Linked DNA regions of Homo sapiens. The protein of the gene in region 1 purifies or fractionates together with the protein of each later gene. This does not show direct contact. Each region holds a gene or a part of one and is shown in the gene's direction. Other genes may lie near its edges.

Region 1 (4,354 bases):
TTGGCAAGTGACAAAACCTAAGCTTCGGTTTCCGGACTGCTACACTGGGGTATCTCACAGGGATACCTGATGATTTGATGTGATAGGTTCTGTGAGGCACTTAGCATAATGCCTGGCATAGAGCAAGCACTCAATGCACTGCAGTCACCACTATTATTGTTAGGACAAGGCCTGTGGGAGAAGGGCCATCCTGCAGACAATGCCGGGAGATGGGAGAAGCCCTGTGCCCCATTTCTACGGTAGTACCAGCACTACCAGGAGATCTGAACTAGCCTCACAGATGTCTTGGCCTCTCTGCTTGTCTACATGGTCACCCAACCTGAGATTTTGCCTCCTTCCTCACATCCCAGGCACCCTTCATCTCCACTGCCCCCTCCTCACAGATGCTCTGTGGTACCATATAGCTCCTGGGGGAGGCGGAATATTCTTATTAGTGAGCAGCCGGGTCCTGGGGGAGAAGGTGTATACTGTGTGCTTCAGCAAGAACAAGGCTTAGCACCAGCCCAGACAATGTCACCCACAGAGGAGAAAGCACTTAATACATATAAGCTTGAATTTTTTTGTCTGTTTCTTTGTTTTTAGTAGAGACGAGGTATCGCTGTGTTGCCCAGGCTGGTCTCGAACTCCTGGGTTCAAGCGACCCTCCTGCCTTGGCCTCCCAAAGTGCTGAGATTACCAGCATGAGCCACCATGCCCAGCCTTGAATTATTTTTTTAATGGATGGGGAAGCTGGGGCATAGAGAAGGGATGTTCTCCCATAAAGTAGCTTATGTAGACATCAAGACAGAAGACATCAGAGAATCCTAGAGTCCTGATCCAGAACCTCTTGGCCATTGACTGTCCTGGATGTGTCAGAGAGTGTGGAATCCCAGACCAGGGAAGTAATTGACCCAAGGTCACAGAGCCTGTAGGAGAGCCCCAAACCATTTTCCAGCATCTGCCCATTACCCCTCTATCTTCTCTTTAGTATCTGAAGGACATTGCCCAAGAAGGGAACATGAACCTTTTAACATAATCAGGCTTGGGCTTGCAAACCCCCAAATTTATTTTAGTTCCTTCTGGATACATTCCCAACCAGAACCTTTACCTGCCTGCAGGGTCTTGTCTGGGATCTGCTCCTTGCCCATTCCCAAGAGGAGCAGAGGCAGGCCACAGGATCCATTCCCCCTTCCCAGGTACAAAGACAATGAAGTTGGAATCAGCTGTTACCTGGTGCCACAGCTAAGGTTAGATGTGAGCCCAGAGAGAACCCAGTATTAGCTTGCAAGCTCATCTGCGGGAGGGCAATGCCCTTGGAGAACCAGGAGACCCCTGGAAAGCAGAACAGTCATCCAGTGGAGAAATTAAAACTGTGCCAGCCTCCAATGGCAAGAGCACATTAACCTTCCCCAGGCTTCTCTGGTCCTTATCCCAGTGCACTAAATTACCAAGGAGGAAAACCAAAGTTTGAATTGATTTCGCTTTTGTTTTCTCACCTAATATTTACCAAGGGCCTACTGAGTACAGAATACTCAACTAGGAATGAAAAGATTCCCAAAGAAAGATCTGGACTTTGTCCACTAGAAGTGCACAATGTGGTCAGAAGACTGGAAACACTATAGAAAGGGTGAGCAGTGCTGTGGTGAAAAGAGCCCAGCCAGGCACCAGGAGGCCTGGTTTCTGAGTCCAGCTTTGCCAATGACTCTCCCAGTGTTTTCAGCAAGTGTCTCTATTAGGTTTGGTTTTCCTTCTCCTTAAAATGACAGAAGTGATGGCCGGGCGTGGTGGCTCATGCCTGTAATGCCAGCATTTTGGGAGGTCAAGGTGGGTGGATCACTCGAGGCCAACAGTTCGAGACCAGCCTGGCCAACATGGCAAAACCCCGTCTCTACTAAAAAATACAAAAATAAGCTGAGTGTGGTGGCGCATGCTGGTAATCCCAGCTACTTGGCATGAGAATTGCTTGAACCCAGGAGGCGGAGGTTGCAGTAAGCCAAGATTGCACCACTGCACTCCAACCTGGGTGACAGAGAGAGACTCTGTCTCAAAACAACAACAACAACAAAAAGAGAGGAGTAGACCAGAGCAGATCTTAATGTGGGGTCCCCCGGAGCAGTGGTTCTAAATCGTAAAGACCAAACACTTCCTCTTTACAGCAAATAGTGTCTAAAATGTCCCCTTTACTATTCTGAAGTGAAATTCAAAATACAGAAATTCTGAATATTATATCCCAATAATATAACCCATCCTACCTACACATGTAATTTAAAAATCAATATAATCTCCTATGGTAATAGAAAAGAGATATAAAAGGGAACTAATTTAGAATATATATTTTTTCAATACATGAATGAGAGGGTAAGGTTGTACCTTTCCCATTGGGAACCATGGCCCCAGAGGTTCTACAGTGGGCTCCAGGAAATCTAAAATTATGTGCCTTTTTTTCTTTTCTTTTCTTTTCTTTTTTTTTTTTTGAGACAGAGTTTTGCTCTTGTTGCCCAGGATGGAATGTAATGGCTCGATCTCGACTCACTGCAACCTTCGCCTCCCAGGTTCAAGTGATTCTCCTGCCTCAGCCTCCCAAGTAGCTGGGATTACAGGCATGGGCCACCACGCCTGGCTAATTTTGTATTTTTAGTAGAGATGGGGTTTCTCCGTGTTCGTTAGGCTGGTCTTGAACTCCCGGCCTCAGGTGATCCACCCGCCTCAGCCTCCCAAAGTGCTGGGATTACAGGCGTGAGCCACCACGCCCAGCCAAATTGTGTGCTTTCATCAGATTCTCAAGGGGGTCAGTTACCCAACTAAAGTTAAGGAGCCTTATCCTGGAGGGTGTCTGGGGGCTCTGTGAGTCTATGATTAGTGTCAAAATGAACCATGCAGACTCTGGAGCTGCAATGACTCCACTTCCCTCTGGCCTGTGGTTCTCTGATCAACCCCTTTCTTGTTTCTGAGGCCAAGTATCTTGCTAGGCAGGGCCATTATCGACCTAGTACTTGGTGCAATGAATGCAAAGGACCTCTCCTCCAGCATGGCTGATTCTGGTTGCTAAGACTCTATCATCCAGGGCAGAGATGAAGCTTCACTCTTGCCAGAGGGACTATTGGCTCTGAAAGACCTCTAGTACAGGGGAAAAATAGATGACTAACACCTTCACCATGAGGAAAGAGTGGGTGGTGTGTCTACCCTTTGTCTAAACTATGCATTTTGTCCAGGGTCAGGAAAAGGTTAAGTCTTAGGATTAAATACAGGATATTTTTTTTCTTGCTGAGAACAGTGAGAGAAGACCGGGATAGGGATGGGGCAGAACTAGTGTTTTTGTTTTCACATTCAGTTCTCCTGAAGCGGTGTTTGGCTGAAATGGAACAACTTCTCAAAGAAACAGGGTTAGATTAAAAGCAGCCTGTTCCTCTGCCAAAGTGTGGAAGCTTTCTCTGCCAAGTGCATGCCCATTTTCTCTTTCCAGAGGAAACCACTGCTAATGTCTATTATCCTATCAAATATCTTCCATCTAGAAGCATTACATGTTTCCATAATAAACAGGGCATACAGTGCTCGCTTTGTCAGCACATACACTAAAATTGAAACAATACAGAGATTAGCATGGCCCCTGCGCGAGGATGACAATCAGGTTATCTTAAATAAATAAATAGAAAACAGGACATACACAAACACACACACACACACACACACACACACATATTCACAGGAATTGTCTGTCATTCACTGTATGTTTGAAGGAATTTTGAAACTGTCAAACTCATCGCAGGATTTCAGGAAACTTTCCCATTAGGACAAGCACCAGAGTGGTATCATCAGAGAATCTGGGAGTCTAAGCAGACAAAGAAGTAAAGCCAAAAGTATTTTTACCTATGTAGTTACAAAAAAGTTACAAACTGTTTACATACTGTTCTGCAACTTGTTTTGGCCTCAGGACACATTGTGGACAGTTTCCTGTCACTTCTGTGGAGCTAACCTCTTTTTTAAAAAATATATCAGTATTCTATCACATGGATTACAACATAAAATTGTTGAAGCAATTCTCCTTTGATGAACATTTGAGTTTTCCCAATCTCTTATTATTACAAATAGGGATGCAACGAGCATCTCTGTCCATTTACCTTTTTGCAGGATAAATTCCTGGTTCACAAAGTTTGCACATTTTACCTTTTGTCAGAAATTGAAGAGGGCCAGGTTTTCCAGGGTCCAAGTCAGGCAGAACAAATGCAGCAATGTGGAACAGACGGAAACTCCAGCTCTGTCATTTCCTCACTGTGTGTCACCAGAGTCACACCACCTCCTTTTTATCAGCTATAAAACAGGACTACTGCTGAACTCGTAGAGTTGGGGGAAAGAGTGAGATAACATATAGATTACC
Region 2 (3,548 bases), on another chromosome or scaffold:
ACAAAGACATTCAGCTTGGGAGTATCACAGGCAGGACTAGAACTAGTTTCCTTAATGTTGTCTCTTTGATAAGCTTAAGAGATATTTGTAAATTTTTTACTACTTTCATTAGAAACCCATACGGTTTCTAAAAATTCAGTTAAATTTTTATTGAGTTACTGCTATGTGCAAAGCACTATACTTACCACTGAGCGTGTAAAGTTGAAACTGACTCATTAGTATGCGTGCACCACAGAGACACTTTGTTCAGCTAATCATAAGCACTCAATGAAAATATGATTATTGAAGAAAAACTGTTTCTTACCCTTAAGGGTTTCAAAATCTCAATAATTTATATTCAATAAATTAAATCGATAAGAATTTTATTTCAAAATGTCTTCGCTTTACAACCCTCATGATGTTATTAAAGAGAAAACTTCATAAGCAGAGAGAAATCTGTAACTAGAATTGTGGCAAAAAACAATAAAGTTGAGATTTTTTTCTGTGTACTTACAATAAATGTTTACCAGAAATACTAATTTGTGTATTTACGTAAGCTGTTCATATCTAAATGGGACATGTCAAAGATTTATTAATGCACAAATTCATGGATAATGTAGCCCAGTGGCTTTTAACCTTTTGGAGAATCTAATGTACATTTGCAAATTTTACATACAGTGTTAAGATGCTTATGCTTTTTTCTCCCCCACCAAGCTCATTTATGAACTTCTAATTAGATGTATCTACATCTGGAGTTATTGGGGGTATTTTGAAAGAGCCTTTCAGGTGGCTCTTGTCCATGGTGGGCTACTGCTACGATAAGAACTTATTATTTCTTGCTGGTATGTTGAAAATCACAGATAACTTTTATTCATTATTTACATAGTGTGCCTTTTTTAAAAAATCTAAACTTTGCCAGACTGGTAATCTTCTCTCGGGTATTTGTGTTCTGAGTCCAAAATAATATTACCTGCCTATTCCAGATAAAGTAGTCCTATTTTAATAAATATCAAGGGATAGTAGAAAGTATATTAAACTCTATTGCAAAAGATCCGAATTCCAAAATTACTATTAATAGTTTTATATTTAAAATAATATGTACCTAATCTTGGGCCTCAGTTCCCTCCATGTATAAAAGATTATTGTAGTAAATTCAAATTTATGGTCTCTTAAGAGCTCAGCTTTACACTTTGTTAAGTGAAATAAAGCAGCAGACTTGAAATTAGGAGATTTGAATTCTACTTCAAAGTATATTTTTGTATTTCTATGAGTGTGTGGCTACATGATTTACATTCTGTATTTTCTCATGGAATATAATGAGATGTCATTTAGCTTTCTCTCAAGCTTAGGAATGTCACACTGAGTCACTGACTTGTCGTCAGGCCTGGAATCACCATTCTCTCTGCTGCCGTCACCTCATAACAGCTATCTCCATATTCTGTGTTGGATGTGTTTCCTTCTCAAAGTTCCCCTGAACAGGAGGGTCTGTGTATTTTAATCTGCATATATCCAGTGACTGGCATAGAATTGGTACATTAAAGAGACAATAACAGTTTGACTAATTTTTTTTTCAAACTTTGGTTTTAAAAACTACATATAGGCATACATGTTTCATTTTTATTATATCACCATAAATTAGTTTCCAAAATAATATTGTAATCCAAAAATGTGTTAACTAGCTCCTCAAATTTTTTTTATCATTCTTAATTCAGAATTCACTAAGCATCTATTATATAGCAAACACCAGATACATAACTCCTTATGGAGCTCACAGCTTAGCAAGTAAGACAAAAAGGTGCAAATTATTAATTGCGTTGCAGTGTGAGGGTTTCTGTACGTGTAAACAAAATATAAGTAAATATTGAGAATTTAAGTAATGCTTGTAATATGACTCATTTTGAATTACGATAGATATTTTACTTGGTGAACATGATATATTTGTTTAATCCTGGCTCCTTGTAGAGCACAGCTCTCTTTACCAGTGGTGACATAGAGGGAACAGGGTTATTTATGTTATCGCAGGCCTTTGTCTGTGAAACTTAGAGTAGACGAAATTTCTTTTTAGCATTCTCTTTAAAGGTCTCCAGATATTTTAAAAATATGGAAAATTGTTATATATCATATCCTAAATTATTATTTTATGTATTCTACTTTTAAGTATGTTTTTGTTTTTAGGAGGATTCTCTATGGGAGGATGCATGGCAATACATTTAGCATATAGAAATCATCAAGATGTGGCAGGAGTATTTGCTCTTTCTAGTTTTCTGAATAAAGCATCTGCTGTTTACCAGGTAAGTTCCAGATTTAAAAAAAAATGAAAAAAATATGAAATATATACATGTTAAAACTAAAGCAAAATCGGTAATAAAGCTGTAAAACACACACACAGTTGATGCACAGTTGATATGGATTGACCATTCCTGGAATTCATGGCCAAATGAGTCGTAGTGATTAAATTCCAGCTGATCATTAATGTTTTGGAAATCCCCTGTACAAGAAATATTGTTAAGCAAAATGTCAAGGAGGAAAGGATAATCATGTGTGTGGTTGTGGGGGAGCATATATGTAAATTTTATACATATTAAAACTGCATGATGGTTATAGCTGGGTTTGCTTATTGCATCATGAACATAAAACAAAAATCAATTACATAGCACATACTTATTATGCAGCAATATCCTCATCTATGAATATGATGCAGCTTCAATTATAATGTTACAGCTTCAGTACCAGAAGTGGAAATGTTAAAGCAGATACAGAATAGAGAACTAAAATGTAATTGTCCCCTTGATTGTGCCTTAGCTGTGTACTCCTCCCTCCTTCCACATTGTGTGAAGAGGTCTGTCTTCCCAAGTCACTTAGTTTCTTTAGGAAATGCTTTGGCCATTTTTAAGACGTCCTCTATAGAATAAATGTAAGTGACACACAGTTACAAATTGAGTGATGCCAGGAACCAGCTAAGTCCCCAGGCCTGGCCCACCAATGTATACCTCAGACAGCACTCCCTCTGCCTTTTTTTTCCCATTAGTTATTGAAGCCTTGGTAAAATTGGAATTTTCCTGTTCTCTCTGATTTCTAAGAATGATCTTAAATGGAATTTCTTAAACTTTTCTGTCTTTGTATCTTCTTCTCTAGGCTCTTCAGAAGAGTAATGGTGTACTTCCTGAATTATTTCAGTGTCATGGTACTGCAGATGAGTTAGTTCTTCATTCTTGGGCAGAAGAGACAAACTCAATGTTAAAATCTCTAGGAGTGACCACGAAGTTTCATAGTTTTCCAAATGTTTACCATGAGCTAAGCAAAACTGAGTTAGACATATTGAAGTTATGGATTCTTACAAAGCTGCCAGGAGAAATGGAAAAACAAAAATGAATGAATCAAGAGTGATTTGTTAATGTAAGTGTAATGTCTTTGTGAAAAGTGATTTTTACTGCCAAATTATAATGATAATTAAAATATTAAGAAATAACACTTTCCTGACTTTTTTATTATTAAAATGCTTATCACTGTAGACAGTAGCTAATCTTATTAATGAAAAACAATAGACAAACATCTGTGCATAATTTTTC
Region 3 (3,548 bases), on another chromosome or scaffold:
TCTCGGAATTGTGCCACTCATTTTTTCACCAAATACGGGTGTTCCAGAAACTATCATGGCACGGGTGGGTGTGTGATTTAGTATGTTAATGAGCTTATAATGAGGATAATGAAGTCCTAGGTGAAACCTAGGTCAAACCCAGCACCATATTGAGTCCACTGGGTCTTAGCCCTAGTTTCTCAGGGTCTTAGCCCCTAGCGTAGGCAGCTATTTCAACAGTTTCTTTTTGCTAGTCATATGAAACTGCTGCCTGGAATTTTCTGTTCTCTTGCGACCGTCCTGTATTATTTCTGTCTCAAAGTCACATGTGATTTTGGTCATCAACACCACTTTTCTTGTGTGTCCATATGTGTGTGACTTACGTGTTCGTATTAAAGGAATTCAGAGCCATATCTTAATTGCTGCTGGCACTGTCTGACTTGGCTGACATCTTTTTATGTTTGGGAAAGTTTGAGTTCAGTTCCTGCTAGATAAGGAACAGTGGGGAGGACTGGTTTTGTTGAGTGCTCACTGCATCCACTGTTCTTTGGCTTTTCTCTCCCCAAGGCTGCCAGCTGTTGGTATATCCAGGAGCTTTTAATCTGACCACTGGACCAGCCCATTGGGAGTTACTTCAGCGAAGCCGGTAAGAAAGGAACCATATATTCAAGCCTCTCGGCATGTCCTCTTTGTAGAAAGATTTCCGGTTGGGTGGAGGTGCCAGCCTTCCTGATGTGGATTCTGTCCCTGACTCAGGATGCCCTTGTATCCAAATGCAGTTGGAAAGGATGAAGCTATAAGGAGGACTTCTACTGCACGTCACTTTCTCCTCAGAAGCCACAATACCAACCTCATGGATTTTGGAAACTGTACTTTTTTTTTTTTTTTTTTCTTTTTAAGAGACGGGTCTTACCATTGCCCAGGCTGGAGTGCAGTGGTGTAATCATAGCTCATTACAGCCTTGAAATCCTGGGCTCAAGAGATCGTCCTGCCTCAGCCTCCTGAGTAGCTGGGACTACAAACATGCGCCACCATGCCTTGCTAATTTTTTATTTTTTGTAGAGATAGAGCCTCACTCTGTTGATCAAGCTGGTCTCAATCTCCTGGCCTCAAGCGATCTTCCCGCCTCAGCTTTTCAAAGTGCTGGGATTACAGGTGTGAGCCCCAAGCCCTGCCGGAACTGTGGTTTTGGCATTTTCAATATTCAGTGTATTAGATGGGAAGGGATTTCATTTTTCTGTGATTAGATGTGGATTGGTCCCTCTTAAGTCAGTTCCAGCAACTTTTACAGAGAAATTGAGAACCACAGAGCTTATGTCTTCAGAGCCCCAGAAGCCAATTAAAAGGCAGGGATTAGTTTAGCTTGACCTAGGGAGAGATTTGTGGTCTGTACCCAGCTGATTCTATGCCATTCAGATCAGGATGCTTATCCTACCCCCTCCTTCACACCATCCTACTAGTCCTGAGGGTACTGTGCCAAGAAACTCATGAGAAGCTCTTGTTCTTCTAACCTATAACTCCAGGGCTTTGCACAAGCATCTTTGGCAGGTCACAGGTGCCTTTCCTTAGTCTTCTAAGGCTGAGAGGTGGTGAAGGGCAAATAGCATAGGTGGACATAAGATGGAAGGGAAAATGAATGTGACTGTGAGTGTGTCTGTCTGTCTGTAAAGTGCTCTACAGCCCATGAAATGCTGGTCTGAGATGATGGTTTTCTTTAGAATTTTTAAAAGTTGAAGTAATACAAAAAAAGTGTACTAATTTTAAGCATAGAGGTTGGTGAATTTTTGTGTATTCACCTGCCACCAAGATGAACATAACAGAACATTTCCAGCCCCCGAGGATGCTCCCTTTTTTGCCCCTTTCTAGTTAGTACTCCTCCCTCTGCCTAGAGGTAGCTGCTGTTCTCACTTCTAGAGATGGTGGTAATGTTTAATGTAAGGGAAAGAGGTTTTAGCTGGTTGCATGGTGGAAGATGGGGGTAGGGGTATAAGATGCCATGAGTATCAGTGAAGGTACAGTTTTGTCAAAAGTGAGAAGTTTCTGGGATACTGAGATGACCCAGCATGGGTCTGTTAAGTCTCGAGGGCTCCGAGGTGAGGTGCTTTGGTGTACCTGGACTGCGAGCTGCAATTTTTGTTCTATTTGAGGTGGTGGGACTGCCACCATGGGCATGGAAGCGCCATGTGGCCTGCAAGGTGTATTGCTCTCATAAGGCCACTCCATTCTCTCCGGCCACCTTGACTTGCTTTAACCAGAGAAGCTCTTCTCTTATGTTAGCTTATAGCAGGCTTTCTCAGCAGTGGCACTGTTGACATTTAGGTGTGTAATTCTTTGTGTGGGGGCTGTCCTGTGCATGGTAGGATGTTTAGCAGCATCTGTGGCCTCTACCTGCTCGATGTCAGTAGCATCTCCTTAGTCACGACAGTCAGGAAGATCTCTAGACATTGTCAAATTTGGTGGGCAACATTGCTCCTTGCTGAGAACCACTGGCTTATGCAGTAAGGTAACTTTGCACAATGTGCAGGTTAGTTACATATGTATACGTGTGCCATGCTGGTGTGCTGCACCCATTAACTCGTCATTTAGCATTAGGTATATCTCCTAAAGCTATCTCTCCCCCCTGCCCCCACCCCACAACAGTCCCCAGAGTGTGATGTTCCCCTTCGTGTGTCCATGTGTTCTCATTGTTCAATTCCCACCTATGAGTGAGAATATGCGGTGTTTGGTTTTTTGTGCTTGCAATAGTTTACTGAGAATGATGATTTCCAATTTCATCCATGTCCCTACAAAGGACATGAACTCATCATTTTTTATGGCTGCATAGTATTCCATGGTGTATATGTGCCACATTTTCTTAATCCAGTCTATCATTGTTGGACATTTGGGTTGGTTCCAAGTCTTTGTTATTGTGAATAGTGCTGCAATAAACATATGTGTGCATGTGTCTTTATAGCAGCATGATTTATAGTCCTTTGGGTATATACCCAGCTACCAATGACTTTCTTCACAGAATTGGAAAAAACTAAAGTTCATATGGAACCAAAAAAGAGCCCGCATCGCCAAGTCAATCCTAAGCCAACAGAACAAAGCTGGAGGCATCACGCTACCTGACTTCAAACTATACTACAAGGCTACAGTAATCAAAACAGCATGGTACTGGTACCAAAACAGAGATATAGATCAATGGAACAGAACAGAGCCCTCAGAAATAACGCCGCATATCTACAACTATCTGATCTTTGACAAACCTGAGAAAAACAAGCAATGGGGAAAGGATTCCCTATTTAATAAATGGTGCTGGGAAAACTGGCTAGCCATATGTAGAAAGCTGAAACTGGATCCCTTCCTTACACTTTATACAAAAGTTAATTCAAGATGGATTAAAGACTTAAACGTTGGACCTAAAACCATAAAAACCCTAGAAGAAAACCTAGGCATTACCATTCAGGACATAGGCATGGGCAAGGACTTCATGTCTAAAACACCAAAAGCAATGACAACAAAAGCCAAAATTGACAAATGGGATCTAATTAAACTAAAAGAGCTTCTGCACAGCAAAAGAAACTACC
Region 4 (3,548 bases), on another chromosome or scaffold:
GCAATGGCGTGATCTCCACTCACTGCAACCTCTGCCTCCTGGATTTAAGCAATTCTCCTGCCTCAGCCTCCCGAGTAGCTGAGATTACAGGCACACGCCACCATGCCTGGATAATTTTTGTATTTTTTTTTTTTAGCAGAGACGGGGTTTCACCATGTTGACTAGGCTGGTCTCGAACTCCTGACCTTGTGATCTGCCTGCCTTGGTCTCCCAAAGTGCCAGGATTACAGGTGTGAGCCACCATGCCCGGCCTAGCAGTAAACTTTTATTACCTCTCACAGTGTCTGTGGGTCAGAAGTTTGGGAGCGGCTTAGCTGGTTGGTCTTGGTTTGGGGATCTCTCATAAGGCTGTAGTCAACATGTTGGCCAGCGCCCCAGTTATCGGAAGTTTTGATGGGTTTGGAGGACCCCCCTCTAAAGTGTCCCATACACAGGAAGCGAGTTGGCTGTGACTTTTGGAAAAAGGCCTTAGTTCGCTGCCGCGTGGGCTTCTTTATGAAACTGTTTGAATGTCTTCACAACATGATAGACAGCTTCCCCAAAGCGAGTCATCCAAGAGAGCAAAGCAGAAACTGCACGTTCTCTGAACTCACTTCTGAAGTCACATTTCACCCCTTTTTGCAGTCTCTGGATGGGTGCATAGGTCACCCCTCCCAGCACAGGCGGAAGCTATGCAGAGGCATGAATTCCAGGAAGCAAGGATCACTGGTGTCTGATTGGAGACTGGCTGCGGGTCTGATACTCCTTTCCCCAGCATAGCCCAGTCACAGTTTTCAACATTTCACATCTCTTGGTCTCTGGCATAGCAGATTCTGCCGAGTTATCCCTGGTTTTGCAAATTCTGACAGTGTCGCTGTAAGGTAGGGATGTCTCACTGTTGTAACCAGGAAAGAGTCTAGTTGGTGGTGAGTGTGGCAGGGACCAGTGTGGTCTCCAGAGACTCCTATGCCTTGTGTAGTGGCTCACGCCTGTAATCCCAACACTTTGGGAGGTCAAGATGGGAGGATTATTTGAGGCCAGGAGTTAGAGACCAGGCTGGGCAACGTAGCAAGACGCTGTCTCTACAAAAAATAAAATAGGCTTTGCGTGGTGGCTCATGCCTGTAATCCAAGCGCTTTGGGAGGCCGAGGCAGGTGGATCACCTGAGGTCAGGAGTTTGAGACCAGCGTGGCCAACACGGCGAAACCCCATCTCTACTGGAAATACTAAAAATTAGCTGGGCAGGGTGGCAGGTGCCTGTAATCCCAGCTACTTGGGAGGCTGAGGCAGGAGAATTGCTTGAACCCTGGAGCCTGGAGGCGGAGGCTGCAGTGAGCTGAGATCGTGCCGTTGTACTCCAGCCTGGGCGACGGAGTGAGACCCTGTCTCAAAAAAAAAAAAAAAAAGGCTAAAGCAGAGCATTTTGTTCTGTTTTTGGAGTCAGGGTCTTCCTCTGTCACCTAGGCTGGAGGTGCAGTGTTGCGATCTTGGCTTGCTGCAGCCTCAACTTCCTGGACTCAAGCAATCCTCCTGTCTCAGCCTTGAGCCACCCTGCCTGGCCCCTAAGGCACAGTTTTAAAAATAAGTAAATAGCGAGGCGCGGTGGCTCACACCTGTAATTCCAGCACTTTGGGAGGCCGAGCTGGGCAGATCACTTGAGGCCAGTAATTCGAGACCAGCCTGGCCAACATGGCAAAACCTCGTCCCTACTAAAAATACAAAAAAATTAGCTAGGCATGCTGGTGGCGCAGGCTTGTAGTCCCAGCTACTCAGGAGACTGAGGCATGAGAATTGTTAGAACCCAGAAAGTGGAGACTCTGTCTCAAAAAAAAAATTAAAAATAAATAGCTGGGTGCGGTGGCTCAAGCCAGTAATCCCAGCACTTTGGGAGGCTGAGGCGGGCAGATCACAGGGTCAGGAGATCGAGACCATCCTGGCTAACACGGTGAAACCCTGTCTCTACTAAAAATACAAAAAACTAGCTGGGTGTGGTGGCGGGCGCCTGTAGTCCCAGCTACTCAGGAGGCTGAGGCAGGAGAATGACGTGAACCTGGGAGGCAGAGATTGCAGGGAGCCGAGATCATGCCACTGCACTCCAGCCTGGGCAACAGAGCAAGGCTTCATCTCAAAAAAAAAAAAAAAAAAAAAAAAAAAAAAAAAAAATATATATATATATATATATATGGTAAATTAAAAACAAAAAAATAGAGGCACCTGCGAGGGCCTGAAAGCTGGGACTGAGGTACCAGGACACGGCAGTAATGATGTTTTTGAGCAGCGGATTATGCCTGGGGGTTTGGGCTGATGGCATCTTCGCCCCTGTGCCAGCGTGTCCGGAGCGGTGACTGGAAGGGGTACACAGGCAAGACCATCACGGACGTCATCAACATTGGCATTGGCGGCTCCGACCTGGTGAGGAGAAAACTGCCTTGGGGTAGGGTGGGAGTCTGGGCACTGTTGGTCCCACTCAGGTCTTTACTTTCTCCAGGGATGGGACCTGGCTGTCTCCACTTTTCGTGGGCCCTGAATTCTTATTCTCTGATGCTATGTCTCCCCGCAGGGACCCCTCATGGTGACTGAAGCCCTTAAGCCATACTCTTCAGGAGGTCCCCGCGTCTGGTATGTCTCCAACATTGATGGAACTCACATTGCCAAAACCCTGGCCCAGCTGAACCCCGAGTCCTCCCTGTTCATCATTGCCTCCAAGGTATGAGTGCCGAAAACTGCCCGGCCCCTGGCCCTGTGTGTGTTGGGGTGGGGAGGGACAGCTGTCTTGCCATCCCCCTGGCCATTGGTCCCTTTTGGTGGGTTCCGAGTGAACCATGGTTTGTGGATCAGGTCAGTACAGCTGCCCTAGACTGTTTCCATGCCTAGCAGCAAATAAGGTTGACTGATGAAATCCTGAACACATCAGTTTGAACCTTTGTGTCCTGACCACACCCGCTCGCCTTGCGGCATCTCTGCTCAGCCTGGGACTGCTCGCCACTTTCTTACAAACCTGTCCTTTATGCCTGCTCCTTTTCTTGTTGTTGTTTTTGAGACAGAGTCTGGCTCTGTCACCCAGGCTGGAGTGTAGTGGCGTGATCTCGGCTCACTGCAATCTCCGTCTCCCAGGTTTCAAGCGATTCTCCTGCCTCAGCCTCCCAAGTAGCTGGGACTAGGCACACACCACCACGCCTGGCTAATTTTATTATTTATTTATTTATTATTATTATTTTTTAGTAGAGATGGGCTTTTGCCATGTTGGCCATGCTGGTCTTGAACTCCTGACCTCAGGTGATGCACCCCCCCTTGGCCTCCCAAAGTGCTGGGATTACAGTCTTGAGCCGCCATGCCCAGCCATGCTTGCTCCTTTCTGATCCCAGAGCCATGCCCTGATAATAGAGGGGTTTTGTTTGTTTTTATTTATGTTCTATTTACTCACATGAATGTACATAAAATATGAAGAATTCCATCTGAATTCTGAGATACCTTCCAGCCTGGGCCGAAGAGAGCCTCAGGTTGACTGCAGCCCCTCAGGGGAGAAGCTGCGGCCTTTGACCTGCAGGCTTAGGGTTGGGGGGTGTGTT

Evidence for each region. Proteins that work in one complex are often made in the same cells at the same time.
Region 2: the proteins of SEC14L2 (region 1) and LYPLAL1 fractionate together in Homo sapiens (co-fractionation; one large-scale study listed by BioGRID). This does not show direct contact.
Region 3: the proteins of SEC14L2 (region 1) and NIT2 fractionate together in Homo sapiens (co-fractionation; one large-scale study listed by BioGRID). This does not show direct contact.
Region 4: the proteins of SEC14L2 (region 1) and GPI fractionate together in Homo sapiens (co-fractionation; one large-scale study listed by BioGRID). This does not show direct contact.

The regions. Positions count from the first base shown.
Region 1 is NC_000022.11:30,417,518-30,421,871, forward strand, and holds part of SEC14L2 (SEC14-like protein 2), read left to right. Parts: intron 1-4,354. UniProt on the Homo sapiens protein: Carrier protein. Binds to some hydrophobic molecules and promotes their transfer between the different cellular sites. Binds with high affinity to alpha-tocopherol. Also binds with a weaker affinity to other tocopherols and to tocotrienols.
Region 2 is NC_000001.11:219,208,378-219,211,925, forward strand, and holds part of LYPLAL1 (lysophospholipase-like protein 1), read left to right. Parts: intron 1-2,137; coding exon of another isoform or gene 2,138-2,154; coding exon 2,155-2,270; intron 2,271-3,114; coding exon 3,115-3,351; 3' UTR 3,352-3,548.
Region 3 is NC_000003.12:100,348,257-100,351,804, forward strand, and holds part of NIT2 (omega-amidase NIT2), read left to right. Parts: intron 1-546; coding exon 547-625; intron 626-3,548. UniProt on the Homo sapiens protein: Has omega-amidase activity. The role of omega-amidase is to remove potentially toxic intermediates by converting 2-oxoglutaramate and 2-oxosuccinamate to biologically useful 2-oxoglutarate and oxaloacetate, respectively.
Region 4 is NC_000019.10:34,375,196-34,378,743, forward strand, and holds part of GPI (glucose-6-phosphate isomerase), read left to right. Parts: intron 1-2,307; coding exon 2,308-2,391; intron 2,392-2,539; coding exon 2,540-2,686; intron 2,687-3,548. UniProt on the Homo sapiens protein: In the cytoplasm, catalyzes the conversion of glucose-6-phosphate to fructose-6-phosphate, the second step in glycolysis, and the reverse reaction during gluconeogenesis.